Regions from separate parts of the Homo sapiens genome. Here region 1 is linked to region 2. The links come from fine-mapping of genetic effects on gene expression. A gene starts in region 2. The other region holds a variant in brackets. All regions are shown on one strand. Distances are between the middles of the regions.

Evidence for each region. PIP is the estimated chance that this variant, and not a neighbour inherited with it, causes the effect.
Region 1: its variant is fine-mapped to the expression of WTAP in CD4 T cells (BLUEPRINT, PIP 0.95).

The regions. Positions count from the first base shown.
Region 1 is chr6:159,820,705-159,837,048 of GRCh38, forward strand. No RefSeq gene overlaps it. Among named protein-coding and RNA genes, the nearest start is that of PNLDC1, 29 kb to the left of the region's middle. RefSeq lists enhancers at 878-1,684, 9,801-10,534. The variant CAA/C (reference allele first, on the strand shown) is at 7,268.
Region 2 is chr6:159,718,425-159,734,768 of GRCh38, forward strand. It overlaps WTAP (WT1 associated protein), which reads left to right and starts at 9,082. Exons shown (of 8, transcript NM_001270531.2): 1 at 9,082-9,279. It also overlaps a transcript of SOD2 not described here and the pseudogene RNU4ATAC18P. RefSeq lists enhancers at 8,293-8,890, 8,371-8,460, 8,811-8,940, 8,891-9,488 and silencers at 8,951-9,500, 15,264-15,524.

The DNA of each region.
Region 1 (16,344 bases), 100 kb after region 2:
CCTGTATGTGTGGTCAGAACTTTTCTTGCTATAAATGCAGGCGGAGCAGTCAGCACCTCGAGATTTAAGCTAATGTCTCAGGAGCAGGTCATTGTGCTAGGAGCTGGACACCAGATGAAGAAAAGGGGACGTTATTTCTGGGGGAAAAACTAATGGCTTATTATTGGCTGTTGTTGACTTAGTTCTGAGAAATGGCCTTCCTAAGTTTAGTAAAGGAAGGATGTGAAGCTTGGAAGAGGGGAAGTCGTGTGCACTGGGGACATTTTTGACAAGTGTTATAAACCGTAAGACATCCACGTGCATTTAGAAACAATGACCCGCAGCCACAGTGTGCACCTTTGACGTTGGCACAGTGGGACACTGTGTCCTCCACAGTGGTCTGCACTACACTCAGCTTTCTCGGTAACTTTTCTCTGTGGGGATCTCGACTCGGCTGGGCTCTTTGCTCAACCTGGAGCTTCACTTGTGGGCTCTGCAAAGCTGATTGAAATTTAGCCTGGGAGACATTTTTCCTCTAGAGAAACAAGCGTTAGTGGTGGTAGCTGTCCACAGGGGGGTTTGGGAACTGCCTTTCCAGAGGTCGCACCCCTTTCCTGAGGGGTGAGGGGCCCGGTGGCCCTACAGGATCCTTTGCGACTTATGATCTGACCGGCCACGCCACACTCGGAACAGCAGCTGTTTCCTCATCTGCTCAAACCGCATTGTAAGGGAGTGTCAGGGTGTTGGGTATTTTGTTTGTTTGTTTGGTTGGTTTTTTTTCATTGAAAGTAACTTGTTTTGAGACAGGGTCTCTGTCGCCCAGGTTGCAGTGCAGTGGCACAATTGTGGCTCACTGCGGCTGCAGCTTCTACCTCCAGGGCTCAAGCAATCCTCCCACCTCAGCCTCTCGAGTAGCTGGCACCACGGATACATGCCACCACACATGACTAATCTAAAACAATTGTTTTTGTAGTGATGGGGTCTCCCTATGTTGCCCAGGCTGATCTTGAACTCCTGGCTTCAGGCCATCCTTCTGCCTCAGCCTCCCAGAGTGCTGGGATTACAGGCGTGAGCCACCAATCCAGGCTGGTTGAACGTAACTTCGCTGAGGAGAATTCCACTTTTCTTTCATGGGCTTTGGGCTTGACTGTGTTTGGGTAAGCCCTGCTTTAAGTACTCTTGCGAGCCCCTCTCAGCTGCCTGTCTTGAGGGCTGTTTGGCATCCCAGCGGTGGAGCAGGGCCGGGCGCTGTAAGCTGTTCCACAGTGCTCTGGAGTTGGAGGCACACAGCACTTTCATAAGGCCTTGTTCATTCACCTCTTCTCTGTTCAGCGTGTCTTCACTGGGCACCTGGTGCATGCCCTTCGGTGCACCATGCTATGGGCAGGGTCCTCATGTCCATGGTGACCTGGCTGACCCCACAGCCCTGTGTCGTGCCTGCTGTTGCCTAGGGCAGCCCTGAGCTGGAAGAGCTGGAAGCTGTGCCACAGCCAGGCTTTGTAGATCAAGTTTACTTTCTGAGCAGTGCTCAGGCGCTGCTGACCAGGGCACTGCTCAGAAATGCTGAGTGGTTCGGGGCCTCCTGCCCTTAGCAGCTCTTGCCCTGCCTAGATGGCGGTGAGGGAACGAGGCAGGCTCTGAGTCTCTCCCAAGGTGCTCTCCCCGCTCCCCTAGCTCTTCAAGGCTGTGTTTTACCTGCAGGTCTCCCTCCAATCAGTAAATGAATAAAACCGAAACAAGGCAAAAAGCCAGCCATTCTTCTCTCCTTCCCTAACTCTATCCCCTCTCCCTGTGGCCCAGCTGGTCTTTCCCTCTCCACCCAGGCTTTCGAGCACGTGCTTTCCATCGTTCTCGCCCCTGCTGCCCGGGGCCCAGCCAGTCATTAGGGCTCCCTGGCTTCCCTCTCACTCCTCCATGGCCCTGGGTGGTGCAGCTCCTCTGGACGCTCTCCCCAAGTCTCTGGTCACTCTCTTCTCGATTGCCCTCAACTCTTCCCCTGGCCCTTTAGATGTTGGTGTTCAAGGACCTGGCACCATCCGCCGTGACAGTGCCGGGCCCCAGCATGACTCTGAAGTTTGTTCTCAGCTAACGTCTCTCTCCTGGGTCCCAGTTCACCTACTGAGCCTCTAGATTTTCCCACAGACACGCCAAGCTCCACACAGGCAGGATGGATCACTTTCCCTCCAACTCACCTGCCTCGATGGAGGTTGTGAGCACCTCCCCAGCTGTAGCTTCCAGCTCCTAAACTCTCCCCACCTCCCTGCCCCGCCTCTGAGCAGCCACTCACTTGCAGCTCCTAGACTCTCCCCGATCCCTGCCCCTCCTCTGAGCAGCCACTCACTGGCAGCTTCTGTCTTCGTGCAGTTCTCCTGGCTGTCCAGACCCCCTTCACATTACCTAGACAGTTTCAGGGTCTCCTCAGTTCTGGGAGAGCCCTGCCTGCCTCCTCTTCTCCCTTTTCTGCTGTGGCCCTCACGGACATAAGTGGGCTCCAGAAGGCAAATCTGGTCATCTCTCCTGCCCAAGCTCCTTCTGTGGATTCTGCCCCAAGTCCACAAGCCCTTTCTCTCTGTATTTGGGGCCCTGCTGTGTCTCTGGTCCCCCACGGGTGTCTGTCCTTGGGATCACTGTTTCTCTTCCTCTTCTCTGAGCCACTCACCACTTGACCCAGCTCAGTGGACATCTCCTCTAGGTTCTAGGTCACTGTTGCCTGCTGTACCTGTCAGGTGTCGGGGGCTCAACCTGTCTGAGTGCCTCTTGCCTGTCCCTGCTAGAGCACTTGGTGCTGTGTGGCAGTGTCCCCTGGCCTGGCCCTGCACAGGTGGGCAGTGGAGTTCTGGAACCTGCAGGGGCCCTCAGTATCCTCACAAGCCAGTGCTCCCCATGGCTGGAGGCTCTGCTGTGTTTTTCGACAGGGATTTGAGTTTGTTGCTGCTGCTCAGGTGAGGTGCTTTGAAAATGGCCTTGAGTAACTGATGTGCTTCTGCAGCAGAGGGAAAAGACAAATGGCAGCCTCCGAATCTGCCCAGCCCAGGGTGTTCTCACTGACCCACACGACCTGATCACTTAGAAGTGATGTGATTTCATGTCCTTGTTCTTACAATTTTGGTTCTTGTTTGTGGTTTAAATTATTTCTGTGAGATTTTTGGTATGAGAAAGAAAGTGACTAGAAATAGCCTTAAATGATCTTAAAATTAGCTAATCTTTCTCTTTACATCCTTCAGGTACTAAGTTCAGGCTGCCGTAACAAAAATACCATAGACAGGGTGGCTTAAAAAACAGAATCTTATTTCTCACAGTTCTGGAGGCTGGGAACTCTGAGAGCTGGCGCCAGCTGAACTGGCTCCTGGAGAGTGCTCTCTTCCTGGGCTTGTGGAGGGCTGCCTTCTTGCTGCATCCTGGCGTGGCAGAGACAGCGAACATCTCTCTCACTTCTCTTCTTGTAAGGGCACTAATCCAATAAGAGGGCCCCACCCTCATCACCTCATCACCTCCCAAAAGGCCTCACCTAAGACCATCCCCTTAGGGGTTAGGATTTCAACCTGGGAATTTGGGGGAAACACAAACATTCAGTCCATAGCAAGTATCTTTCCTTTTCTCTGAAAGATACAGAGGTTCATATCATTTATTGTTACTACAGAAAGCTTTTCTCTTTCTCTGTGGTCTTTTTAGCTCATGAGACAGCAATACTAATTTTCTTGGCATGAAGTATGTGGTAGAGGTTGTAAATTTTGAGATACTTTCTAAGGGGAAAAAAAGGCTGTTACTTTCTAACCACTAAAATCCTTTGTGTAATTTTCTATAAGTTTGTCTGAAAATCCACTGTAAGACTAATTAAAACCTCATTTTTTTGTATGGTGGTGACTTGCCAAATTAAAAATTATCTGGGGCCAGGCATGGTGGCTCACGTTTGTAATCCCAGCACTCTGGTAGGCTGAGGTGGGCGGATCACATGAGGTCAGGAGTTCGAGACCAGCCTGGGCAACATGTTGAGCCCCTATCTCCACCAAAAAATACAAAAATTAGCTGGAAGCAAGGTGGAGTGGCTCACATCTGTAATCCCAGCACTTTGGGAGGCCGAGGTGGGTGGATCACCTGCAGTCAGGAGTTCGAGACCAGCCTGGCCAACATGGTAAAACCCTGTCTCTACAAAAATACAAAAAATTAGCCAGGCATGGTGGCGGGCACCTGTAATCCCAGCTACTTGAGGGGGCTGAGGCAGGAGAATCACGTGATGAACCCAAGAGGCAGAGGTTGCAATGAGCCGAGATCGCACCATTGCACTCCAGCCTGGGCAACAACAGAGAAACTCCATCTCAAAAATAAATAAATAAATATAAAAATAAAAATTAGCCAGGCGCGGGCATGCCTGTGCTCCCAACTACTCAGGAGGCTGAGGCCGGAGAATCGCTTGAACCCGGGAGGCAAAGGTTGCAGTGAGCCGAGATCGTGCCACTGCATTCCAGCCTGGGCAAGAGAGTGAGACTCTATCTCAAAAAAAAAAAAAAATTATTTGGGAAAATATAACAATCAGGAAACTTCTGAAAAAGATAAGTGACCAAGATGACTTGTCCCACCTGCCGTATGGGAGTACATTGATCCAAGCTGTGCATTTTCTACCATTTTCACATCGTTGAGATTGGGTTATTTCTTACAGTCAATGGTGTGTGTTAATTTAATTGGTGTTTTCTTAATGTGCACAAAATTGGTGCCTTTGTAATTGCATGTTGATGAGACTATGGCGTAAAGTTATAATTAATACATTGTGAGATTGGCATAGTAATAGAATCTAGGTAAGAAATAGACTGAGTGCATCTGGGAATTTTGCTGTGATAAAGGTACCATATTAAATCTGGGACAAAGAGCCGTTTAGAAAAAAAAAGCCAATTCTTTAGTCCTTACACCAAAATAAATTAGACATGTCATATATTTAAGGTTAAGAAAGGCAAATCATATAAAAGGAAATGAAAACGATTTAATCTTGGGATGAAGAAGGGCTTTCTAAGCATGAAACAAAAGCTTCAAGTGGTAATTAAATAGTTGATTGATTTGGTGCAACCATGTCTCATGTTGTCTGAGACATCCTTCACTGGAGAGTGACCACTGTTTTGTGTTCCACTAAGGGATAAATGCTGCCGGGGAGGTTTTTGTCCCTCATCCTAAGATACACCCTGATCTCAAAGATGTTGAAATGGAGGGAAAGTGCGTCTTGGAATGGGTGAAATACAGAAAAATACGCTTACTTACAACCAAAAATCTAAAAACCACCCAAAACTACTTGAACATGGGAAGCAAGCATTGTCACGGTGGGTTAGTTGCAGGACAGTTTTGGCAAAACTGGGGTGGCCTTGCTGCTGCCACTGCAACTGCTACTCTAGTTTTTGGCGGTTTACCCTGAGGGGGTTACGAGGATGCTGCTGGTGGTGGTGGACGAGAGGCAGGAGCCGGCGCTGGGGCCGGGTGGTCTGCAGACTCTCGTCCTCTCCTGCGCCTCCTCACGTCGGTTAGAGCCATCGGCCCTCCTCTGTCCCCTGGTACTTTCAAGTGCTTATCATAATGTAGAGAGGTAGATTTGTGTCCCTAACTCCCCAGTGTGCCTTCCCTACAATGCAGCTTCTCTCCAGAGCGGGGTGCCTCCTGCTCATGTGGGCTGGCAGCACCACTGAGGGCCTGGGGCTGGCCCAGTCCCTGCCCACTGTCTAGTGGGGCGACAGTACACAAGCAATGGCTGTAAAGGTCAGCATGTCCTGGCTAGGGAGGGGCTGGGGCGTCCCCGCCAAGGGCACCTAATCCAGAACAATTCCTAAGGATGAGCGACAGGGAGGATGTTTTTGTCATGAGCACAGGAAAACCACTGTGTTAGTCTGTTCTCCCACTGCTATAAAGAAATACCCAAGACTGGGTAATTTGTAGGAAAAGAGGTTTGATTGGCTCACAGTTCTGCAGGCTGTACAGGAAGTGTGGTGCTAGCATCTGCTTCTGGGGAGGCCTCAGGAAGCTTTTACTCATGACGGAAGGTGAAGCAGGAACAGGCTTCAGATAGTGGATGCAGGAGAAAGAGAGGGGGCGGAAGGGGAAAGTGCCACACACTTCTAAACAACCAGATCTCGGGTGAACTCAGAGCCAGAGCTCACTCATCACCCAAGGGATGGCCCAGGCTGTTCATGAGAACTCTGGCCCCGTGAGCCGGACACCTCCCACTAGACCCCCACCTTCAGCATTGGGGATTATAATTCAACATGAAATTTGAGGGGGGACAAATATCCAAACTGTATCAACCACATACAGTGTGGTCATGAGTACACTGGAAAAACCTGAGAAGGTGCACCCCAAAATGTTAGGGAATGACATTGCTGAGCAATTACTGCACACCCGATGCTGAATAAAGTCCTTTGCAGTTATTAATTCATGTGCTCCTCACAGTAACCTTCCAAGTAAGTACTCTCACTGCCCAGTGACCTTCCAAGTACTGTCACTGTGCCCGCATAGGACGGAGACGCCTGACACCCACAGGGCGGGTGCTTGGCCTTGGCACGCCCCGGCCAGCGGTGGGCAGCTTCTCTTGATGCCACACTGCCTGCAGGGTCATGAGTTATTTCAATTTTCTTTTTTTTTTTTTTTTGTTTTATATTGGAGTTGTCTATCGTGAATATATATGGTGTAATTTCAAACTGGTTTAAAAAAACAAGGCAAGTCGGGCAGCATCCACAGGACTGCAGCTCGTGCCTCAGGCTCAGGCTCAGCCCCGGCGCCTCCTGGCGGAGTGGGGCCCTGGGGCTCTCCCAGGCTGCTCTTTGGCTGCGGCTTCTGTTCCAGCTGCAGCCATGTGGCTCTTGTGTCCCACCTGTCATCTTGAGACTCGTCCAGCTCTTGAAACCACAGTTGGTGCTGAGCTGCTGCAGCACTCCAGGTATGGAGGGAGGAGTGGTTCTCAAAAGACTGTTTCTCTTCTCCATAGGAACAGAGCTATAGAGTATTTGTCCTTTCTTGCACTGCTATAAAGAAATACCTGCCAGGCACGGTGGCTCACACCTGTAATCCCAGCACTTTAGGAGGCCGAGGCATGCAGATTACTTGAGGTCAGGAGTTCGAGACCAGCCTGGCCAACATGGTGAAACCCTGTCTCTACTAAAAATGTAAAAATTAGCAGGCGTGGTGGCATGAGCCTATAATCCCAGCTACTTAGGAGGCTGAGGCAGGAGAATCACTTGAACCCAGGAGGCGGACATTGCAGTGAGCTGCGATCATGCCACTACACTCCAGTCTGGGCGACAGAGTAAGATTCTCT[CAA/C]AAAAAAAAAAAAAAAAAGAAAAAAAAATACCTGAGACTGGGTAATTTATAAAGAAAAGAGGTTTGACTCACGGTTCCCTAGACTGTACTGGTAACATGGCTGGGGAGGCCTCAGGAAACAAAATCATGGCAGAAGGCGAAGGGGAAGCCCGCACATCTTACATGGCTGGAGCAGGAGGAAGACAGAAGGGGGAGGTGCCACACTCCTTTAAACAACCAGAGAACTCACTAGCACAAGAGCAGCAGGGGGCCGTTCACCCCCAGGATCCAATCGTCTCCCACCAGGCCCCTCCCCCAACACTGGGGATTCCAATTCCACGTGACACTTAGGTGGGGCAAAGAGCCAAACCATATCAAGCATCATCTGCTGCCTGTTTTTATGGCCAAAGAACTCGAGTGATCTGGATCTTTGGATTGCTGACCTTTAAATAACTCGGACTGTTGTTCTGTGATGGAATCTGGGGGATGGTGGTGGTTGGCAGGAAACACTAATAACCTGTAATCAATCATCTCTCCCCTCTTCTAACACCTGTGATTATTCCTGTGTAGGCAAGAAAAGGTGTACTATATAAGGTATTCTCAGTTATCCTTTAAAAAGACTAATAAAATATGTTAAAATGTTATCTCTCGAGGGGCTCCTGGTGATTTCGAATTTCTTTGTCATATATTTTTCTGTACTATAAAAATCTTGAGTGTGCATCCCTTCAAAACCAGAAATGTACTATTTTTAAAAAATTAGTACATAGAACTTAGCATCTGAGTGATGACAGTTATATTTTAAAAGTGAAATCGGCCATGCGTGGTAGCTCACGCCTGTAATCTCAGCACTTTGGGAGGCCGTGGCAGGTAGATCACCTGAGGTCAGGAGTTCAAGACCAGCTTGGCCAACATGGTGAAACCCCGTATCTACTAAAGAAAAACACAAAAATTAGCTGGGTGTGGTGGTGAGTGCCTGTCATCCCAGCTACTCAGGAGGCTGAAGCAGGAGAATCACTTGAATTCAGGAGGCGGAGGCTGTAGTGAGCTGAGATCGCGCCACTGCTCTCCAACCTGGGCGACGAGTGAAACTCCATCTCAAAAAATAAAAAATGAAAGTGAACTTAAAGGCCAGGCACAGTGGCTCACACATGTAATTCCAGCATTTAGGCTGAGGCAGTTGGATTGCCTGAGCTCAGGAGTTCCATCCCAGGCTGGGCAACATGGCAAAACCCCATCTCTACCAAAAATACAAAAAGTTAGCCGGGCATCATGGTACCCACCTGTGGTCCCAGCTACTCAGGAGAATGAGGTGGGAGGACCACTTGAGCCTGGGAGGTAGAGGTTGCAGTGAGCCAAGATCACGCACCACTGTACTCTAGCCTGACAGAGTGAGACCCTGTCTCCAAAAAAAAAAAAGAAAAGAAAAAAAAAAGTGAACTTAAAGCTGAAAGAAAACGCACAGAAGTCTTGGTGGGGGCTACCCAGAGTAGGTGGACCATATGGTTTTATTTTCTGTATATTTAGGGATCTTTTTACCATTTTTTTTTTTACAATGAGCATGTATTTCTATCACTTTAAACATGAAAATGCATTAAAATTTTTTTGTTGAAAATAGAGCTCTCTTGTCCTGCTTGTGGGGACAGCCCTGTGAAATATCTTTAGTTCTTATTTAATTGCATTTTACTGGACACAGTCATGCCTACTTCTTTACATTAGTTTCCTGTTTCCTGCTGTAACAAGTCATCACAAATGTAGTGGCTTAAAATAGCACACAATTACCATTTTGCATTTCTGGAGGTTAGAAGTCCAACACAGCTCTCGGGGCTAAAATCAAGAAGTCGGGGCGGAAGGGCTGTGTGCCCTTCCAGAGGCCTCAGAGAGAAGCTGCTTCCTCCCCTTTTCCAGCTTCTAGAGGTCACCAACATTCCCAGGATCGTGGCCCTGTTCCTCCATCTTCAGCAGCAGCAATGTGGAATCTCTCTGATCGATCTTTCTGTAGCTTCGTCTCCTCTGACCACAGCAGGGAATGCTTTGCCATGCTTTAAGACCCATGTGATTAGGCGGACCCTCCTCCTCGGATGACCCTGGATAAACTCCCCATCTCAAAGCCCTTAATTATGTCTGTAGAGTCCCTCTTGCCACATCAGGTGCTATACTCACAGGTTCTGGGGTTAGGCTGTGGGCACTGGGCATCTTTGGGGAGCCATTATTCTGCCTGCCACATTCTCCAGCGACACACTGATGAAGCACCTGCCCAGGTAAGTGCTATTCCTACCTCATACTCCCCAGTGAGTGGGGTTAGCCCTGCGCAGTGAGTGGGGTTAGCCCTGCCCAGGAAGCAGGGTCTGATGCGGCTGAGCTGGTTACAGGCCTTGCAGACTGCGTGGCCACCACGGTGACCCAGCACCCACCATCCACCCAGTCTCCTGCGTCGCTGTTCTGGAAGCTCTGCCGCGGTGCTGGATGGCTTCACCCGATTTCAGCATTCGGAAGCTCCCCTAGAGGTCCCTCATTCTGCCCCATCCCTGCCCCAGCTCTTGCTATTGTTTGCCTTTATCCCTTTTTCCTACAGGAAGAACCAGATTCAAACATTTGCCTGCTGGCAATAGTGTTTCTGAGGAAGACACTGTGAGGGGAACTGCGGGCCGAGCCTGCTCTGAGCGCAAGATAGTAGGAGAGCTCTCTGGCACACAGCTGCCTACTCTGTCCCTACTCTCCCCTGGGAGAGAATCCCTGGTGTAGACTTAGTCCTAATCCTCAGAAGAGCTCCCCCAGTGTGTGATGTGGCTCTGCCAAAGATCGTGAGAAAGTGGAGATCCAAAAACAAGTATTCTCTGGGCAGCACAAGCCAGATAAAGTTGTTCTCAAGTTGGCTCTGGCTGGGTTTGTGGAGGGCACAGAGGCTTTGACATGTGAGCTTGTAAAGATGCTTTCTTTCCCATCCCAGGGAGCTGCCCAAACCTTCCTCGCTGCTGAGGCCGTGTCCTCAGCCCAGTGGAGCAGCAGCAGTGGCCACTGCCTGCGTGACCCTGCTGAGACCTGTGCTCGTAGTCAGATGGGATGTTCTGAACTCCTGGAAGCCAGAGGTTATAGTTTTTTAAAGACTAAAAAAGGAATATTGTATTGTGTAAAACAGAAAAGGAAGGGAAGCACTCATTCTCCCATTCCCTTATTGATCAATTTGGGCTTGTTCCTGTCTCTAAAATCTGCATGTGTTTTATACTGGAAGACCCTGGAGCGCAGGCTTTCATTCCATGCAAATGTACCTGCTCTGTACCAGGCACTGTTCCAGATGCCCCGGCTGCAGCCATTAAAGCAAAGATTCAGGAATTTGCATTTGTGTGGAGTCATTAGACAAGCAACGAGATGAGAGTGCCTGTGAGGTGATCAAGTGCTGGTTACAGAGAAACTTGGAGGAGAAGTCGGGTGCTGCCTTCCAGTGCTCAGGCAGGGTGCGCAGAGAAGGGGATGCCTGAGCAGAGACCTGGCAGAGATCAGGGCTGAGACACCTGCCCGGCTGTGGACAGAGCTCCAGGTGCTGTCTGGCCCAGGGCCCAGTGGAAGCACCTGGCCCTGCAAAGAGGCTCCAGCCACCAGGATGGCTGAGAGAACTTGGGTGGGTGAGGCAGGAGCCAAGGCCAGGGAAGAAGTGGAGGGCCGGTCAGGTGGGGCACAGAAGGCACTGGTGATTGCTTTGACTTCTCAGCAGAGGTGTGAGCCATTGAGGGGCTGCCAGCTCAGGGTGATAAGGTCTGGCTGACTAGGGAAGGAGGAAGGCAAAAGAGGTGGCTGTGGCCCAGTGGGGAGGTGTGCAGGGGCTCTAGATCTGGGTGTATTTTGACAGTGGAGCTGCTATGATGTCCTGACAGAGTGAATGTGGAGTTAAGAGAAAGAGGGGTCAAGAATGATAAAGTTTTGGCCTGAGCCAAGGTGTGGAGTTGAGGTAGAAGGTGGGACTTGACTCCGGAGGCAGGGCTCAGACACCGGGCCAAACTGAGGACTAGCTAAAACAGGTTATAGGGGAAGCAGTTTTCCAGAAAACACACCCATCAGTGTGCCATGTCAGTTTACCATTGCCATGGCGACACCCAAAAATTATTGCGCCTTTCCATGGCAATGACCCAGTGATCAGGAAGTTACCACCCTCATCCTAGAAATTTCTGCATAAACCACCCCCTAATTCATGTATAATTAAAAGTGGGTGTAAATATTAGTGCAGCCCTAAATCTGAGCTGCTCCTCTGGACACACTTCCTGGAGAGTGCCCTGTACCGCAAGGAGCAGTGCCTCTGCTGCTCCTGGATGCTGTGGCTTCAATACAAGTTGCTGTTGAACACCACTGGGTAGCTCTTGAATTCTTTCCTGGGGGAAGCCAAGAACCCTTCCGGGCTAAGTCCCAATTTTGGGCTTCACCTGTCATGCATCAGAGTTGCCATCTGGTTGTATCTAAATTGTTTTATCTCTGTGCCTGTGAATGACACAATGCTGTTGTTTCTCCTTTATTGGGGATTAGGGAAAGCAGAAAGGTGGAAGAAGGAGATGAGAGCCTCATCCAGAGCTGCAGGGCCAGGCTGAGGGCCAGGGTGCCTGGGTTCCCTAACAATGCACACCCCTCCCTTTAAATTTCCTATTTTGTGGGCACAATGGTTCACACCTGTAATCCCAACACTTTGGGAGGCTGAGGCAGGAGGATTGCTTGAGCCCAGGAGTTCGAGATCAGCCTGGGCAACATAAGGAGACTCCATGTCTAAAAATATAATAATAGTAATTTTCTTATTTTGTGTGTTTTATCATATATGCAATATATTAGTACATGGAATACATGTATGTACATTATTAATACATGTGCACAGCCAGGGTTTGTCCTCAGCTTTGTTTCAGTGATAAGGAAATAGGATTGAAATAGTTTGGAGACCGTTTGCTCTAGTAATTTCCCTGGGTTCAACGTCAACATGAGGAGTTTGACAGGGATTTATGAGAAGCCTTGGAGGCTGGTCCATGGTTAGCCACACCCAGACCTGTAGGCACAATGTCTTCAAGATCTGATGAAGTCTGACGCTACCTCCTGAAAGGGACACCCTCAATCCTGGCCGTCTTCCCTTCAGCTATTTTTTGGGTGGAGCAGAAAAGAGGTTTAACTGGCGGGTGAAATTGCACATACTTCACAGGTGGTGTCTCTCTTCTTTGGCTGGCAGTAAGGGAAGGAAGGCCCTCTGCAGCATAAAGCACACTCATCATGCCTAATCAGCGCAAGCAGGCAGGAAACAAGTGGAGCCTATCAGAAGGCAGAGTTGGACACTCCTAGCATGAAAAAAGCATTCAAAGTATTTATTCACTTATTTTATTAGAGACAGGGTCTCAATCTGTTGCCCAGGCTGGAGTGCAGGGGCATGATCATAGCTCACTGCAGTCTTCAACTCCTGGGCTCAAGTGATCTCCCTGCCTCAGCCTCCTTAGTAGTTGGGACTACTGGCACCCACCACTGCTCCCTATTAATTTTGAAAAAAATTTAGAAATGGAATCTTGCCATGTTGCCCAGGCTAGTCTCAAACTCCTGGCCTCAAACAGTCCTCCTGCCTCAGCCTGCCAAGGAGCTGGGATTATGGGCTCAAGTCATCATGCCCAGCCAAAGTACTTATATTTAATATAAGATTTCAATCAGTTCTATCTGAGGACCTAATTGGAGAGGGCCCTGGCACTTAGGAAGTCCAGCTCTATAAAAATTGGAGCTGCAATTCTCCAGCGGTTAGTCAGAGTCCAAGCTTCCACGATCCTGCTCACCAGATTTCTACCATGGGAAGCACATTCTGAAATTTGCCTCACTGCTTGTTCTAGTGGCCAGTCTGAGAACCTCCACAAAGCTTCACTCTAGAGATTTAAAGGGTTATAAATACAGCCAAAATGAATTCACAAACCATGAGCTCAAATGTGCACATGTAAGTTCCTTTAACTCAATTTAATTCCTTGCTGCAAGCTCCCATTCTGCCCAAGCAGAACCCATAATTTAGGCAATACCAGATAAACGCTGCCCATTCAGGGCTGTTTCCCTTTGGTGTCCACCCTCCTCCCTACCCTAAGACAGAGGCTAAGCTCTGAGAGGCAGATGCAAAGGGCATGAAGTTGGGGGAGAGCGGTGGGGGGTCAGTTTGGACTTCTCTCTGTCCTGATTCTAAGCCAGTAGCCTTTGAGGTGTGACTTACCTGGGTGGCCTTCATATGCTCCCACCTGTACATGGGCTGGGAGGCAGGGGCTTCCTCTGGGATCTCTGTGGCGATGGGCCACCCAATCTCTGCCACTGGCTGCCCTTATCTCAGCTGAAAGGCCCCCAAAGGTGCTTCAGATCCCTCATATTCTCTCTTCTTCCCCTCCTCCCCACTGCCGCCCCCCACCCCTCCCTCACCCCCCACCATTTCCTGTGGCAGGTGGAAGGGCTGTCTGGCTTCCTGCACACCCCTACAGCTCACTCTGGATACCTCTTGTAGCCTCTCTGTGAATGTCACATGAGGGACCCTGGTGAGGCTGCCATGTCAACTACCTGAGTTCTAGAAAGACCAACCAGGTGACAGGTACGCTCTGCGTGAGAATCTATTAAGAAAAAAATTATCCAAAATGTGGATGTCAGGCAAAAACAAGCCACATGACTTTTTTTTTCTTTTCTTTTTTTTTTTCTGGAGACAGGTTCTTGCCTTGTTACCCAGGCTGAAATGCAGTGGGGCACAACTGTAGCTCACTGCAGCCTCAAACTCTTGGGCTCAAGCAATCCTCCCATCTCAGCCTCCCAAGTAGCTGGGACCACAGATGTACGTTACAATGCCCATCTAATTTTTTAGGTTTTTTTTTTTTTTTTGTAGAGATGAGGTCTATGTTGCCCAGGCTGTCCTTGAACCCCTGGACTCAAACTCCTGGCCTCAAGCAATCCTCGCACTTCAGCTTCCCAAAGTGCTAGGATTGCAGGTGTGAGCCACTGCGCCCAACCCACATGACTTTCATTGTCATACTAACAAGCTCACCTGGAGTCGTTTTATTTTAAGCCAATGTAACTTTGATTGGCTTATTAGTTTCTACCGATTAGAGGCCAAACATTTTACAATCCTGTAAAGTTAGGTGTTCACTTTTTGAAAACTGATAAGATGCAAATAATTCTTGTCCAATAACAACGAAAATAGTTCTTGCTCATAGGAGAGGATAACCCCAAAACCTGTGGTTTTATTGTCCTATAGGACACTAATCAGTCTATATGTAGCTTTGCAATTTCCCTCTAGCATTCTCTTTGTTGTTTTTGTTCACTTACCAGTTCACACTTCAGTCTCTCACCTCCCCTTTAAACTGGTTCCCATCGTTATTGCGAGGCCTGGAGGCACCTATCTTCATTCTCACTCCTTCCCTGCCCAATGCCAGGGATCCAGCAACAGACAAAAACCCAAGTTTTCCTAACTCTTTCCTGGCTCCTTTTTCCTCCACCTGAAGTGGAGGTGCTGCAGGTGCTGCCTGAGAAGCCAAGAGGCCTGGAGGAGAGGAGGAGGGAAAGCAGCTTTGTTGAATAGGACAGACTTGCAAATCTTTCCTGTTTTATTTTTAGCTTAAAAGCCAATAACTGATTTCTTTGTTTCTCTGGTTCGCCCATTGCTCACCACGTCTAAATGAGAAAGTACATTTCAAGGCCACCATACAATTGTCCAAAAAGGCCTTCAATATGGAATAATCCACTTTATTATCCCATGGCTGCTCTCCTGCCTGGCTGCCCAGATGGGGTAGGGGGAGCCTACGGTAAACAGCACATGAGAGAAGGAATATATCAATGGATCTTCACATAATGCTAATACATGAGATTTGTATCTGAGAAGGCCCCGGGCAGTCTGTTTTCTTCTCAATTTCATTGCCATTGGCCAGGAATTTTCTTGAATGCCCAACTGTCTTTATCAAGACAGGAATTGGGATACAATTTGCTCAAACATTAAAGAAAATGGTTGTTGATTTGCCAGTAGTCAGTTGGCAAGAGAAGAAAAACTTTATTTCTTTATTTGTAAAATGGCAATAATGTAACAGGATACATTTTGGAGATTTTATTTTTCTATTATTATTATTATTATTATTTTAGTTTTTAGTAGAGGCAGGGTTTCACCATGTTGGCCAGGCTTGTCTAGAACTCCTGACCTCAGGTGATCCACCCGCCTCGGCCTCCCAAAGTGCTGGGATTACAGACGTGAGTCACCGCGCCTGGCCATTTTGGAGATTTTAAAGCTGAGGTTCCTGCTCCTCCTATCACAGCTCTTTATCCACCATAATCAGGAATATTAACTGTCCCAGGGGGATGGTAGGCTATAGCCTCTACCAAAAAGTCAAATTCTTGGCTTCTGAGTTTAATCTATGTAGGATTTTGGAAGACAGAACAGAGGCAACTGTATGAAAGCCAGAGTGCTTTTGATTTGCAAAGCTGACTCTTGAGAGAGGTTTTACTTCATGTTTTTCACAATGCTGAAAACTTGGCATGGCATATCCCCAGCAGAGCCTCCTGGATGCTGCCCAGTTTGTGAGGGAAGTCATGGGTAGAAAAATGCACGATGATAAGGAGCCGTTTTCCATCCAAGAAGAGATACGTGCTCGAGCAGCCGCGCGGGGGAGGCCAGGGCTGGAAGGCCCAGGGTCTCCGAGGAGCTGTAGAAAAGAAGCCTGGAGGGACCCCGGAGCAGAAAGGCTACTGGGGGCTTCCCAGGGAGTGGGTGAGACCCCACAACAAACAGGAACGGCGAGGCGTGGCGGGGGGGTGGGCCGAGGGCAGGAGCTGCTAAGTGTCCTGCGACTTTCTATCAGGCAGCTTCGCATCAGGAAACCATAACCCACTTTAGGGAGTTGGATGCGCTGTTTCAGTTCTACAGACGATGGAAGAGCCAAAAGGCTGCACAGGGAACGAGACGGGCCCCAGAGCTTAGTAACACCCGAAATCCCCATGGCCCCTTGGGAGGGCTGGGAGGGAGGCGGGTGCTGCGGGGGCTGTGGAGGTCCTGCAGGTGCTGCCTGAGAAGCCAAGAGACTGGGTGAGAATGGATGACATCAGCTGGCTCCCCCATTCCTCCTGCCCCCACCTCCCCGCAGGGCA
Region 2 (16,344 bases):
CTGAAATAATATTTTAATAATAGTCTAGTAAAAATTATGATAACAATCTACTGAATTATTTTTTAAAAAAAACTTAGAATGTCAGAAGTCTTTGTGGTCTGCAGAGAAAATGAAGACTAAATGTTATAGCTTTAATTATAATTTTAAAAATCTAAATGTTCACTAAATCTGAAAGATTAGATATATTGGGTTATGTTGCATTGCTGCTCACAGTAAAATCTTGTAAGTCAGTATAAAATCCACTAGATTAGAAAAAGAAAAGTAGGCTAGGAAGTTTGGTTTGGCTTCCCTATCTGTAAAACCACAACTGTCTATGCTTGACACAAACTAAGGTAAATAAATAATGTGTCTTAGGCTAATTGCTAACTGTGAATAGGAGATAACCTGGCATAGAAGAGTAGAAAGAGCATTCCAGGCAGAAAGAATGGACTCAGCAGAGGTACTAACTGGTGAAACAGCATGACATGGTCATAGTCACACCAGACGTGAGCTCTTGAGAGCGTCGTGGATTAACATTAACATTTTTAACCAACAACTCTGATAATCTCTCCAGGATCCCTGGATTTCTGGGTGCCAATAACAAAAGCTAGACTTACTGTTTTTTTTTTCCTCTGTACTTCTGCAATAGATTGAATGTTTGCGTCCACCCAAAATTCATGTTGAAATCTTAACCCCTAATGTGGAGGTAGGTGGTGAGGCCCTTGGAAGGGGATTAGGTCATGAAGGTAGGGCCTTCATGAATGAGATCAGTGCCCTTATAAAAGGGACCCCATAGAGCTCTCTTTTCCTGTTTTCACCACATAAGAGATAAGAGAAGTCGGCTGGCATGGTAACCCATGCCTATAATCCCAGCACTTTGGGAGGCAGAGGCAGGTGGATCACGAGGTCAGGAGTTCAAGACCAGCCTGGCCAACATGGTGAAACTCTGTCTTTACTATGTCTCTACTCATGTCTCTAGCTGAGTACGGTGGCATGTGCCTGTAATCCCAGCTACTCAGGCTGCTGAGGTGGGAAAATCGCTTGAACCAAGGAGGCGGAGGTTGCAGTGAGCCGAGATCGGGAGAGGTGGCTTGTGCTTGTGGTCGCAGCTACTGGAGAGGCTGAGACAGGAGGATCACCTGGGCAAAGGAGGTGGAGTCTGCAGTGAGCCAAGATCATGCTACCTCACTCCAGCCTGGGCAACAGAGCAACACCCTTTCTCAAAAAAAAAAAAAAAAAAAAGTTGCAGGCTAAGTATTAGGCTGATGGCAAAGAAGTGGCCAATTCACTTAATCTAACTCAGTATTATGGTTTTTTCTTTTATTTTCTTTTTTTTTTTTGAGAGAGTCTTATTCTGTCCCCCAGGTTGGAGTGCAGTCACGCGATCTTGGCTCACTGCAACCTCCACCTCCCGGGTTCAAGAGAGTCTCCTGCCTCAGCCTCCCAAGTAGTTGGATTACAAATGTGTGCCACCATACCCGGCTAATTTTTGTATTTTTTAGCAGAGACAGGGTTTCACCATGTTGGCTAGGCTGGTCTCGAACTCCCGACCTCAAGTGATCTGCCTGCCTCGGTCTCCCAAAGTCCTGGGATTACAGGCATGAGACACCATGCCCAGCCTTGCTTTTTTTTTTTTTTGGTGGGGGGGACAGAGTCTCACTCCGTCTCCCAGGCTGGAGTGCAGTGGCACGATCTCAGCTCATTGCAACCTCTGCCTCCCGGGTTCAAGCGAATCTCCTGTCTCATCCTCCGGAGTAGCTGGGATTACAGACGCCCGCCACCACGCCCGGCTAATTTTTTTGTGTATATATAAATATATATTTTTTTAGCAAAGACAGAGTTTCACCATGTTGGCCAGGCTGGTCACGAATCTTGACCTCAAATGATCCGCCCACCTCGGCCTCCTAGAGTGCTGGGATTACAGGCGTAAGCCACCGTGCCCAGCCTGTATGTACTTTTTAATACAGTAATATGTAAATAACTGTGTGTGTATGGGAAAGCTGTTTTTCATTTCTCCAAAAACTGCACCAAGGCAAAGCAAAGCTCTAGTTGATTTCGGTGTGTTGTGCAGGAGTTAGCAGTACTGCCCTCACTAGGTACCCATTGGACAGTAGTGCAACCCCAAGAAAAGGATGGTAGTAAGTTAACTTTCATCACGCGTTGATATTTCATTTGAAATGGTGACTTGAAGCTGGTTAGATACTGAAACTGAGACTATAGTATGCCTAACTCAGCTGCTCAATAACTATTTATTGCTTATAGTCTTACGACTTTTTTTTTAGAATAATTATCTTTGCTAGTACTATCAGATTTGCATGACAACCCTTTCTCTTGTATTCTCTGTAAACTGGAGGTTGTCCCACTATTACTGATACTAAATTTGATGGTTTGGTTCAAATGGTGACCACCAGATGGCTCCACTATACAGGTGTATTTTCTTTACCTTTTTTTTTTTTTTTTTTTTTTTTTTTGAGACAGTGTCTTGTTGTGTCGCCCAGGCTGTAGTGCAATGGCGCGATCTCGGCTCAGTGCAACCTCTGCTCCTGGGTTCAAGTGATTCTCCTGCCTCAGCCTCCCAAGGAGCTGGGACTACAGGCACATGCCACTGCACCCGACTATTTTTTTTTTGTATTTTTATTTTTATTTAATTTTTATTTATTTATATTTTTTAATTTTTTTTTTGAGACGGAGTCTCGCTCTGTCACCCAGGCTGGAGTGCAATGGCACAATCTCAGCTCGCTGCAAGCTCTGCCTCCTGGGTTCATGCCATTCTCCTGCCTCAGCCTCCCGAGTAGCTGGGACCACTGGTGACCACCACCACGCCTGGCTAATTTTTTGTATTTTTAGTAGAGATGGGGTTTCACCATGTTAGCCAGGATGGTCTCAATCTCCTGACCTCGTGATCTGCCCGCCTCGGCCTCCCAAAGTGCTGGGATTACAGGCATGAGCCACCGTGCCCAGCCGTTTTATTTATTTATTTTTGAGACGGAGTTTTGCTCTCATTGCCCAGGCTGGAGTGCAATGGTGCGATCTTGGCTCACCACAACCTCCATCTCCTGGGTTCAAGCAATTCTCCTGCCTCAGCCTCCTGAGTAGCTGGGATTACAGGCATGTGCCACCATGCCCGGCTAATTTTGTATTTTTAGTAGAGACGGGGTTTCTCCACGTTGGTCAGGCTGGTCTCGAACTCCCAACCTCAGGTGATCTGCCTGCCTTGGCCTCCCAAAGTGCTGGGATTACAGGATTACAGGCATGAGCCACTGCGGCTGACCTTTTTTTTTTTTTTTTTTTTTTTTGTATTTTTAGTAGAGATGGGGTTTCACTATGTTGCCAGGTTGGTCTTGAACTCCTGACCTCATGATCTGCTAGCCTCGGCCTCCCAAAGTGCTGGGATTACAGGCGTAAGCCACCACACCCAGCCTGTAATTTCTTTTACAATTAGGTAAGTAGCCTGTAGAGTGATACTTTGATGGCATTTCCCAGCAATCTTTCATCTAAAGGTTTTGAAGTCCATTGATAGTCCTTGTCTGAGTCAATTATTTCATTAAGGTTTGCATCATGGTTATTGTCTAATTCTATATTTTATTTTATACTTATTAGCTGGCATCCTATAGTAAAGAAGAGTTTTTCCTCATCAACTGGGTATAAACCACATTCTTTATTAAAAAAAAAAAGAAAAAAAAAGCAGGGTAGGTTGGGAGCAGTGGCCCATGCCTGTACTCCCAGCGCTTTGGGAGGTTGAGGTGGGAGCATCACTTGAGCCCAGGAGTTCAAGACCAGCCTGGGCAACATAGCAAGACCCCATCTCTAAAAAAACAAAAAAGCAAGCAAAAACACTTAGCCAGGTATGGTGGCAGGCACCTGTAGTCCCAGCTTCTGACGAGGCACGAGGATCACTTGAGCCCAGGAGGTCAAGACTGCAGTGAGCCATGTTTGTGCCACTGCACTCCAGCCTGGATGACAGAGCAAGACTCTGTCTTAAAAACAAAAACAAATGAAACAAAAAACAAACAGGGTAAATGCTATCTCCCTTTAATAACTAATTTTCAGAGTATCAAATTGGTGTAATAGACACTACCAATGATGGAAAAATAGTTTCCCTCTTCTCATTCTCTCTTCTCTGTACTAGAGAGTAGACTTTTATTTATTCAGTATTTGCAATCAATTGTATTCATTTTCTTTTTGACGCTAAAATTGCCCTAAATTTGCCCCCTGGGAGATCCTTCAAGCTGGCTCCCATGTCTCTAAAATTTATTTTTGAGAGACTGAAAATACAAATGGTAAATGGCCAGAATATACATAAAAACAGAATTCTGACCCATTACCTACAACAACTAGCCCAGTAAACCAACCACTTATTTACCATAAGTGTACTCTCAGCCTGAAAGCCAAACCTGCTATCAACCAGACTTGTAGGAAGTCAGACTGCTATCTCTGGTAGCAATCCAGGAAGCTAAATAATAACTTCTATGACAATCAGCTCAAAATGGCCAGGACTTGATTAAAACTTGACAGCTTCCCTACTTTTTGTCCTCACTTCTAGCTTATGCCCATCCAGAGAAAGCCAAATATGCTCCTTTAACCAAGACCATAGGATGCCAACTTGTAGTTAGCTTCCAGCTTCCCCATGCCAACAGCTTCCAATCAGGCATACCTGTGAAACCTTTCCTTTTGTCCACTGTAAAGCTTTCCCACTCCTCTGCATGCCTTTGAACCTCTGCTAAAACATAAGGGATGGTGGCTGACTCCCTTGCTACAGCAAGTTCTCAATCGACTTTGCTTTTCTCATTTGGTTTGCAATAAAATGCATTCTTTACAGTGACACAATTTGATGAATTTTGACAAACGTATACATTCCCACTAACCATGACACAGAACATTTCCATCACCCCCAAAAGTTCTCCCATTTTCCTTTCCAGTCAATTCCTTCTCTCTTCCCCTCCTAACCAACCACTGATCTGCTATCTACCACTATGGATTAGTGTTGTTTGTTCTCCTAACTACAGTTGGCATAGCCTCATTGGTCTAAGCACTTCCTCTGCATTCAGGCACAACGAAATACCTGGCTCATCTTGTACCTTTCCCGTCCCAGAGCTGGAATCAGCCAGTTCTCCAAAGGAGCTCTGGATCTTTTTAGTGGGAAATGGAATTTAGAAACCAAGATCTCAGTGTCAGATGTGCTCACTGTTACTGTAGGGTGCCCATGCCTATACATCCTGGTTCAGCCAGGACTGTTCCAGTTTTAATCTGAAAGTCCAGCATCCAGAGAAAACCCCTCTGTTTGTGGCAAACTAGAACAACTGGTCACCCTAGTGCTTCTAGGCCCTTTCAGTCCACAGAACTAGGACTTTTTTTTGCAGTTGAAACTTTTTTTTCTTTTTGATAGGGTCTGTTGCCCAAGCTGTAGTGCACTGGTGAGATCACAGCTCATTGTAACTTTAAACTCCTGGGCTCATTTGGGCCTCTCGCCTCAGCCTCCCAAGTAGCTAGGACTATAGGCACAGGCCACCACCCCTGGCTATTTTATTATTTTGTATTTTGTAGAGACAAGATCTCACTGTGTTGCCCAGGCTGGTCTTGAACTCCTAAGCCACTTTGGCTTCCCAAAGCACTGGGATTACAGGTGTGTGCCACTGCACCCAGCCCTCCAGTTTAAACTCAATACTACAGACTTTTTTTTTCTGAACTTCTTAAAATTCTTTATATTAGTTTCCACCCCCACCCCCGGATGAATGAACGTCTTAAAAATTGTTTTAAATTTTTTAAAAAATGGAGACAGGGTCTTGCTATGTTGCCCAGGCTGGTCTCAAACTCCTGGACTCTAGTGATCCTCCCGCTTTGGCCTATCAAAGTGCTGGGATTACAGGCATCAGCCACCCGGCCCTTTTCTGAACTTCTTTGATCTTGTGTTTGTATCTCATTCTCTCACACACTGCACATCTTTGTATATAGTAACATTAAAATACTTATGTTATCCTACCATATACAGTACAGAGTTTTAAAACCACAGTAACAATGTTACCATTAATCATAAATCAGTGAAGCTGAAAGCTCCTGTGCACTTTTTTCATCCTTAGAATACACAGTTGACCCTTGAACAACACTGGTTTGGACTGCCAGGGTCCACCTATATGTGGATTTTTTTCACCCCAACACAGATGAAAAATACAGTGGGGCGAGGGACGGTGGCTCACACCTATAATCCCAGCATTTTGGGAGGCTAGGTGGGAGGATCACTTGAGCCCAGGAGTTCAAGACCAGCCTAGGCAACACAGCTCTCTACTGAAAATAGAAAAAAATTAGCTAGATGTGCTGGCACATGCCTGTGGTCCCAGCTACTCGGGAGGCTGAGATGGGAGGATTGCTTGAGCCCAGGAAGTCAAGGCTGTAGTGAGCCATGATCGTACCACTGCACTCCAGCCTGGACGACAGAGTCAGACCCTGTTCTCAAAAAAGAAAAAAAAAAAGAAAAGCAAGAGAAGGGAAGGAAGGGAGGGGGGAAGAGAGGGAGGGAGGGAAGAAGGGAGGGAAGAAGAGAGGGAGAGAAAGAAAAAAAGAAAAGAAAAAGAAAGGAAAGGGAAGGAAGGAAGAAAACAAAACAGAAGTACAGTGGGATGCAAAACACACCTACACAAAGAACCAACTTTCCCTATGCTCAGCTCCGGGACTTTAGTATGCAGATTTCTGTATATGCTCGCAGAAGGTCCTAAATCCAATCTCCTGCATATAAGGAAAGACTACACTATCACAACACAGATACACTACTAGAGTACTGTGTTCAAAAGCTCAGAGGGGCCAGTGGTGGTGGTTCATTCCTGTAATCCCAGCACTTTGGGAGGCCAACCTGCAGGCGGATCACCTGAGGTCAGGAGTTCCAGACCAGCCTGGCCAACATGGTGAAATCCCATCTCTATTAAAAATACAAAAATCAGCAGGGGATGGTGGCGCATGCCTGTAATCCCAGCTATTCAGGAGGCTGAGCTGAGAGAATCGCTTGAACCCAGGAGACAGAGGTTGCAGTGAGCTGAGATTGCACCACTGCACTCCAGCCTGGGCAACACAGTGAGACTGTCTCAAAAAAAAAAAAAAAAACCCAAAGAATAATTATTTTTTCTGTGTATCTTAGTTATATTAGTTAACAGTTAAGTTCATTTGTTTCAATTTGCTTTCAACCTTAGGATTTACTTTGTTTCCTTTTTTATTTACTTTTTTGGCTATGTAAAACTAAAAGTTCAAAGACAGAGAAATCTTGTCTCCACCCCCCACTCTTTATAGGCAACTAAAAATGTTAAGTTTCCAGGATATCCTTCCAATTCCTCCCCGAAAATAAGCATATACACATAAATATTCATATTAAATATAAATATATATTTTTATGTATTTAAGTAAATACATAAAAGCATATATGCTTATTTTTGCTTTTGAATACAGTGAATACTTACTACACTTAAATATTTAAGTGAATACTTAATACAACCTGAGACTCATTCCAAAGCAACACACGATTATTTCCTGAATCTTTTTAATGGTTGCATTGTGTTCTACTGTATGGATGCACCATTCCCAATCAGTTCCCTATTAACGGATATTTGGGTTATCCCTAACTTTTGCTATGACAAATAGCACTGCAATAACCTTGTATACCTATTGTTTCCATGTGTGGAGCTGCACCTTCAGAATAAGGTTAGGGTTAGAAGTATAACTGCAAGGTATAAGAATAAACACAAGTAATTTTGTACTCCGTGGAACTTGAACCATTTTTCCACTCCCACCAGGAAAGGTAATTTCAACGTGTATTTCCATTGTAAGTGAGGTGGAGCGACTTTCTATGTTTAAAGACCATTACGGTATTTTTTCTGAGAATCATCTGTTCATGTCCTTCCCCATTTTCTCCTTTGGCTTTTGCACTTTTTGTTTTCAATTTTTGAGAGCTCTTGTGATACGAGTTGCAAAGATTTTCTCCAGACCGATCTGATTCACTGGAAATATACTACGACCATCTGGAATGTACTTTAATCTTATCCTAATAAATCACCTTACTACAAGACACTCCTTTGGGGATGAACAGGTTTGATAAAGCCGGCTAAGGACAGACCAATCAAAAGAATTACGTGCTCTTCTAGTAAGTGTTTAGAGACTGTTTCACGTTCTCCAGGTAACACCGCCATTACTCGGCGGTCCAGATGGCAGTCTTACTTCAGGGAGTCTACTCCACTTGCAGGACCTCTTTGATTGAGTTCACTAAACCTCACAGGGCCGCCTTCCCCGTGTTCCAGTTAGCAAGGGGCCCTCAACGCCGCGGACACAGCGCAACCTCCGACGCCAGAGAACAATAGCTCCTCGATGCGTCTCCAGAGATGTCAAGGAGGAACGAACCCAGCGGCCAGGAGACTGCGCCTCACGACTGATGAGAGGGAAGGCATCGGTTTCTAAGTTCTCAAAACTTACAGGTGAGCTTCTGCTAAGAGTAAACGCCCGCGGCTCGCCGCCCACGGCCTCTCTCTTGAGGTGGCACCTGGTCCTCCGACACGCGGAAGCATCACGGATGAGCGTCACGAACACAGAGCGGCCAATCACGCGCCGCCTTCGCCCAGATCCCTCCGCACGAGGCAGCCCCGCAGCCGCAGGTGGCCCCGGCGAGTACTTCCACCTTCCCTTCCCGTGATGCCCTGGGGCTGACCTCCGACCTCGCTGGCCCGCCCCTCCCCTCGGCCGCTTCCCTTACTGAGCTTGCTGAGCTCCGGGGCCCGCGGAGCTCGCGCCAGGCTCCTGGGAAAGGACGGGGAGTGTTACCGGGGAGCAGCTGCTCCATTGTGCCTCGAGGCCCCGATCGGGCTAGGCCGACGGCCTCCCTCCCTTCACCTTTCCTCTCCTGGCGGGGTTCGGCGGCGGGCGAGTGACTGCGGCCACGCCTGAAAGGCGACTCTCCTGTGAGTGGGCCAGAAGGCGAACATGGCGGAGCGGGGAGGCTGGCGGGAGGCGGGAGGCGGGAGGCGGGAGGCAGTGGCGCTGGCCTGCGGCGCGTTCGGACCGGCTGTGGGGCGGGGCAGGGCGGAGCGGAGCCGTGCGGCGGGGCGGGGCCGGGCGGCGGGGCCTGGTTTCCTCCCTCAGCGCCATTTTGTGGCAGCGAGACCCACAAATAAAGGGGAGCGCAGGGGTTGCGGCGGGACTAGGAGCGCGGCGGGGCCGGCGGCAGAGCTGTCCGGCTGCGCGGTGGCCCGGGGGGCCCGGGCGGCAGGGCAAGCAGCGCGGCCTCGGCCTATGCGACCGGTGGCGCCGGCGCGGCTTCTGCCTGGAGAGGTAGGCGCGGGCCGGCTGGCGGGAGCGGACGCGGGGGACCTCCGGGGCCTGAGGGCTGATGCGCAGCCGCCCCCGGCGGGTAAGGGGCGGGCAGGGCCCGAAAGGCCACACGGGCCTGGTGCGGCACCGGTCTCTCGTGAGCCGCTCTACCTTCCCGCCTGCGGGGAACACTTCCGCCGCTTCGAGGCCATTTTATCTCTGTCCTCCGTCCCCAAGGCCCGGGTTGAGAGGGGTGCTCTGGCGGCCGGAGAGACCGGCCACTCACGGAGGCCGGAGGATGCCCTCCCCGGGCTGAGCGGCGGCGCTCGTTTTTTCCTCGCCTCGGGGTCGCCCCCTTCACCTCCCTTGGGCCTCTCCTGAGGACCTGGCGGCACTAACGAGTTCAGCAAGGAAAAAAAGAAACATTCGTTCCCTACATTTCATGTCACGCAGTAGGATGTTACTACGTTCTCTTGTAGACTTCCATTTTTAAATGAGTATAAGCATTCTGAGGAAAGAAACTGAATTATTGCAGATTTTTGTGAAATCCAAGTCTTACCTTGGATCCCTGTGAGACAGTTACTAGATTTTTTTTTCACCGTTTTTCATAAGTCTGTGTACACGTAATGGAAAAGCCCGAGTTCTTGTTTTGATAAGAAAGTCACTTGGTTGTTTGATCCCAAAGGATTAGCTTAACATTATCAAGGACTAGCATAACTGTGATTATGTAAAAAAAACAAAACAAAACAAAAAAACTATTATTTAGTCTGGTAGGGAAATACTTCTATGAGTATGTTACAATTGGAAGTTGTATTTGTGCCTATTTTATCTAGTTTTAGTTAATTCCATTGCTTCGGAAGATAAGTGGACGTCATAGATCCATCGCAAGTTCTCGTTTTTTGGATTTTAAAATTTTGACCATTAAGTTTTCTACGATAGATAAACATGTTGTGGACATTTAAAACCGTAATTTAAAACTATGAGCGAAAAATCTTTTCAAGATGGATACATTTTAATTCATTCAAGTAGCATCTGATTAGCCAAGTCGGGGAAAGATTGCAGTCCGCAAAGCTGGCTTGTGATAAGGTTGAGGTTACATTTTAAGGGTTTGGGTAGGTGTGTTTCTTACAGTGCTTTTATATGTTAAGGTATCTTAAGCAGACACATGGTTTAAAAGTTCAGTATTTTTAGTACTTTTTCATTGGCAGAATTTGGACAAGCTACCAGAATTGCTAACTCCTAAAGGATAAAAGTAATAATAATAGTGTGTCCCAGGCACTGCTTATTTTTACATGGCTCTTTTATGTCTAGCTTTTCCAATTCAACGTTGAGTCATGTTTGCTGAAAATATTTTTGTGTATTGTTTGTCAGAAATAAGCTGGTAGAGATGAAACACAATGTGTAAAAAGCCCTGTGATGTGGAGATGAGCATTGTCACAATTTGTACAGTACATTAAAGCGTTCAAGGTCTCTTATGGTCTTGTATGTAGTATTGAATCCCCTTGAATATATTGTTTAGCAGTTTTGATCATTATGTATTTGCTTCTTGCTCCTCAAAATTGTACGTTAGTTAGTAGGTCCTTCAGCAAAAGAAGACTGAAGATAGTATTTTGGTTTTATTCTTGTTTTTAATTTTTTTAGTTGTCTCCAACTTTTCTGCCTCTAAATATTTTGCTTCTTGTAGTTACTAAGCTTAACACAGAAAAACTTTTCAGTATCTCCACAATAGTAAACTTCATTGTGTATTGTGTATAACAAGATGTTCCATCTGACTAAAATATATTGCTGTAAATATTTTCTGCCTTTGAAGATGTAGTTAATAGAATTTAATCTTTTCTAAGTGCACATTGAAGTTGCCTTTTATGTTCATATTATGTTCATATTTTATTTGAAAAATCTATAGCATTTTTATTGTGCTGAAAGCATTAATATTTGCAGCACTTTGTGAGACAGGCAAAATTATCTTTTTGCTGACTTGGAAACTGCAAGAGTTAAAAGACTTGCTTGGAATCACACATGGCAGATAGAGGATAAGGAAAAGATGGCCTTTCAGTTCCTCATCAGTACCTTGCTACTACAGTGTCTGCAGATTGGTGTCTTACATTCAGCTATGATTTGTTCGCCAAGGTACCGTGTCTTCTTACTGAAGTTGTTTTGGCTGGCGCTTGCCTCCGTTCAGAGGGAACTGAGTTACCTAACTTTATGATGCTAAGAGCCAGGAAGGTACTGGGATCTGGGATGCTAGGCACCTAACCAGTCTAGACTGAACTCCATACTAAGCTGTTTTTCTGTGTTAAGGCATCAAGAGTAGATGGTGGTCCTGATTTTCTGAGATATATTATCTCTGAATTATCTACATAAATAACTGAAACTTTTATGTAATTTTAAAACTAGTCAATCATGTTACCACCCTTTTGAGGGGCACCAAATTTGAGACCCTTACCCCCAATTTATTAATTAATAGCTGTTTTAATCACCTAATAGCTGATCACCTAATGACTAACAGTCATTTTCATCCTGGAAAATGGGAACTAACTTTGACTTTGAAAAGTGCTGTTATTAAATGTGTGATTCATAAGAACTGAACATATTTTCTTTATTATTTTCCTTCAGGATTCAACTTTAATTGACTCCAAATGATGTTATGGTCATTCTGTTTTTCTGATACGAGAATAGATTGTTCTGAGAACCTAGAATATTCATTGCCTTTATGAATCTAGAATTGACTTTAAATTTAGGTTATTGTGTTTGTCATTTGCGCTAAAAAAAAAATTGCCCTGGGGAATACCAAACTTCTCGGTACATTCGTGTGGTGTGAAAGTCAAAATTGCCAATTAGGTTCTATTTTGACCAAATAGTTGAATGTTGTAGACAGTTGTAAATTTTGAACCTGTTCTAATTTGCCTTTTGCCAGATGGCGCATTTAACTTTGTGGCATATCATCGACTTTCAAGGAAAGATTTACTTTTCATCAGATTAAAGTTGAGGAAGGATTTTCTTTCTAAATACTGAGGCTCTGAATTTCCCAAGTTGGATACCCCAGACAGCTAGAGTGATCTTAAAAGTGACTCTGAGAGTTGACTTAGGAAGTGTAGACATTTATCCAAAATCTGTATTTACTCCTGACTTACATTACAAATACAGAGTTTTATTTTTAAAGAAAATTTCAATAAAAAGCACCATTTAATTAAAATCTACTCACCATCAAACTTTTTAAAAAGAACATAAGCCAATGTCAGGAGTTGGAGACCAGCCTGGCCAACATAGTGAAACGCTGTCTCTACTAGAAAAAAAAAAGAAATACAAAAATTAGCTGGGCATGGTGGTGCGTGCCTGTAGTTCCAGCTCCTTGGGAGGCTGAGGCAGTAGAATCGCTTGAACCCGGGAGGCGGAGGTTGCAGTGAGCCCAGATCATGCCCGTGCACTCCAGCCTGGGCAACAGAGAGAGACTACGTCTCAAAAAAAAGAAAAAAAGAAAAGAAATTTCAATAATTGCAGGCTGGGCATGGTGGCTCACAACTGTAGTCCCAGCACTTTTGGAGGCCCAAGCAGGAGGATTCCTGAGCCCAGGAGTTCAAGACCAGCCTGGGCAACATAGCAAGACCTCATCTCTACTACCAAGAAAAAAAAAACAAATTAGCTGGGCGTGGTGGTTCATGCCTGTGATCCCAGCTACAAAGGAGGCTGAGGCAAGAGGATCAGTTGAGCCCAAGAGATGGAGGCTGCAGTGAGCTGTGATCGAGTCACTGCACTCCAGCCTGGGCGACAGAGTGAGACTCTGTCTCAAAAAAAGAGAGGAAAAAAAGAAAATTTAAGTAACTTCTGTTTAGAATCCTAAATATTGGAGATGCCAAAGAATTCTGCAGTAAGTGTTAGAAACAGTCGGGAGGACAGTATGATTATTATCCTCAACCTGTGGATTATCTCTTCAGGTTTTTCAAGAAACACTGAGTCTGTGTTTTTGATGGGGAGAAGAAACTATTAATTAAATGCCCATTTTGTGCCAGTTACCATGCTAAAGATTAATGTCTGTCTTCAGAAATAGCACAGTATTTGGGCCCTGGTTGTGGTAATTCTTTTTGAGATGGGGAAACTGAGGTGCAGAGATTTTGCTACTTTTGTATTTGCAAAGTTGACAACCTGTTTCAGAATACCAAGGTTATCAGAACTTTCTTCATGTGTTTCTCAGTCCTTTTAATGCCCTTTAAAAACAGATTATCATCTCATTTTTTGCTAAGCTTACTGTTAATTTTATTTTAGTGGAATAAGAATATGGATACCTGTCTTTAAGAAGAGAGTAAGCAAGTAAACCTAGGGAAAGTATCAGGTTGTAGAACCACATACCGATGATCCTTGCCAAAATCCTGGCATAGGAATTTGAACCCTGGTGTATGAAAAGTCTGCCCTTTGCATACTCAGGTTTCGCATCCCGTGAATGCTGTATTTTTGATCCGAGTACTGTATTTTTTAATCTGAGTTTGATTGAAAAAAATCCAAATATAAATGGACCCATGCAGCTAAAACCTGGGTTGGTCAAGGACCAACTATAATAACTTTTATAAGCTGGAATTTATATTGAACAGCATCCATGATACTTTAGTATTACAACTAAAGTTGTACATACTGAGTAGGTAGGATGCCTTAGTAACTAGATAAAAGGTATACCACCTAGCCATAGTGATAAATATAGCTGTTTTCAAACTGTCATTCACAGATCTCTACCACAGTACCTGTTACGTGAAGTTCCTGGTTGGTTCTCAAAATTTTATGTTCGTATATACATAGATACAGATACTGATATACCGGTTAAATATGTACAGCTCAAATAGCTAAAATTGTCTTTAAGATTTTTTAAATTAAAAATATTATTGGCCGGGCGCAGTAGCTTACACCTGTAATCCCAACACTTTGGGAGGCCAAAGCAGGTGGATTACCTGAGGTGAGGAGTTCGAGACCAGCCTGGTCAACATGGTGAAACTAAAAATACAAAAATTAGCCGGGCGTGGTGGCAGGCACCTGTAATCTCAGCTACTCTGGAGGCTGAGGCAGGAGAATCGCTTGAATCCAGGCGGTGGAGGTTGCAGTGAGCCGAGATCGCGCCATTGCACTCCAGCCTGGGCAACAGAGACCGGGCGCAGGGGGAGGGGGAGTGTCTCTGTCTGCTTCTTTCTCTCTCTCTCTCTCTCTCTCTGTATATATATATAGTGTGTGTGTGTGTGTGTGTGTGTGTGTGTGTAAAATTGATATTTAGCTCCAGACAAATGGGAAATTACAAGGAAATGCCAGATTTGATATCTGGGTTCTAAGACTTTGCAGCCTAATGCATGTGTCATGCTAAAATAGAAGTAGTTAGACATGTGGAGTTAAATATGGTGATGGTTTCTGAGATGATTAAAATGACTGCCACCAGGTTAAGGTAGTTACAAAGCAGCTTTCTGTAATGGCAGCAGAGATAATAAACTGGGCAACAAGGGAGGAACCAATTTAAAGAAAAAAAGAATAATATACATTTTATATCATAGTAATATGGTTTATGTCTTCATAGGACAGAGTGACTTGCTCAGTGAAACAGACTGTATACAATTAGCTCAGAAACAAATACTGAGGTTTTTATCTGTTTGCTGTATCCCTTGAGAAAGATTAAAGAGGGAAGGCAGGGTGCAGTGGCTCACGCCTGTAATGCCAGCACTTTGGGAGGCCAAGGCAGTTGGATTGCTTGCGCCCAGGAGTTCGAGACCAGCCTGGGCAGCATGGCGAAACCCTGTCTCTACCAAAAAAAATTACAAAAAATTAACTGGGTGTGGTGGCACATGCCTGTAGTCCCAGGTACTCGGGAGGCTGAGGTGGGAGGATCACTTGAGCCTGGGAGGTCAAGATTGCAGTGAGCCATCATCGCACCACTGCACTGTGGTCTAGGTGACAGAGCGAGACTGTCTCAAAAAAAAAAAAAAGCCCAGCACGCTGGCTCATGCCTGTAGTCCCAGCACTTGGGAGGCTGAGGTGGGCAGATCACCTGAGGTCGGGATTTCCAGACCACCCTGACCAACATGGAGAAACCCCGTCTCTACTAAAAATACAAGGAAGTTAGCCGGGCGTGGTGGCGCATGCCTGTAATCCCAGCTACTTGGGAGGCTGAGGCAGGAGAATTGCTTGAACCCAGGAGGCGGAGGTTGCGGTGAGCCGAGATCGCGCCGTTGCACTCCACCCCGGGCAACAAGAGCGAAACTCCATCTCCAAAAAAAAAGATTAAACAGAGAAAGAAGCAAGCCAGTAATCTAAGATCAATTTATGATTTTTCCTCTAAATTCTGCTTTCTTCAACACAATTTACTTAATCTGAAAACCAGGGTTTAATAACAGTATGATTAGAATGTTTCATTTATAAAGTGGAGTTGAGATTGTACGTAGTATAAAACATGCTGTTGGAAGATTATCTCCTTTTGAGGAATCTCAAAATCAAGTGGGAGAAATCAAGTAGTCTTGGTGTGTGTGTGTTTTGTTTGTTTGTTTTAATGAGAGACAGGGTCTTACCACATTGCCCGGGCTCGGTTCAAACTCCTAGGCTCAAGCAGCTCTCCTGCCTCAGCCTCCCAAAGTGCTGGGATTACAAGTGTGAGCCACCACACCAGCCTCAAGTAGCTTTCGAGATGATGCCACAGCACTCCAGCCTGGCAACAGAGTGAGACTCCATCTCAAAAAAAAAAAAAAAAATTCAGTTTAACATACCAAGCTTTTGGTCAAATTTCTAGTAGTTTAGAATTTATAATAAGTATGGGTAATTAAAATAAACCATAAACACTTTAAAGTAAGGGAAGATTCATGAGTATACTATTAGAAATAATAACTAGGGCTGGGCGTGATCCTTCCACAGGTAGTTCTAGCTACTTGGGAGGCTGAGATGAGAGTATGACTTGAGCCCAAGAGTTCAAGACTAGCCTGGGCACTATGGTGGGTCCCCATCTCTTAAGAAAGAAAGAATAGGAAAAACTAAATTAGTATAAGAACTAATTACTTAATTTGTATAAGTTATGAATATGCCAAATGCAATTTAGATGCTTTTTCAAAAGAGCACTGGTACTCAGAACCC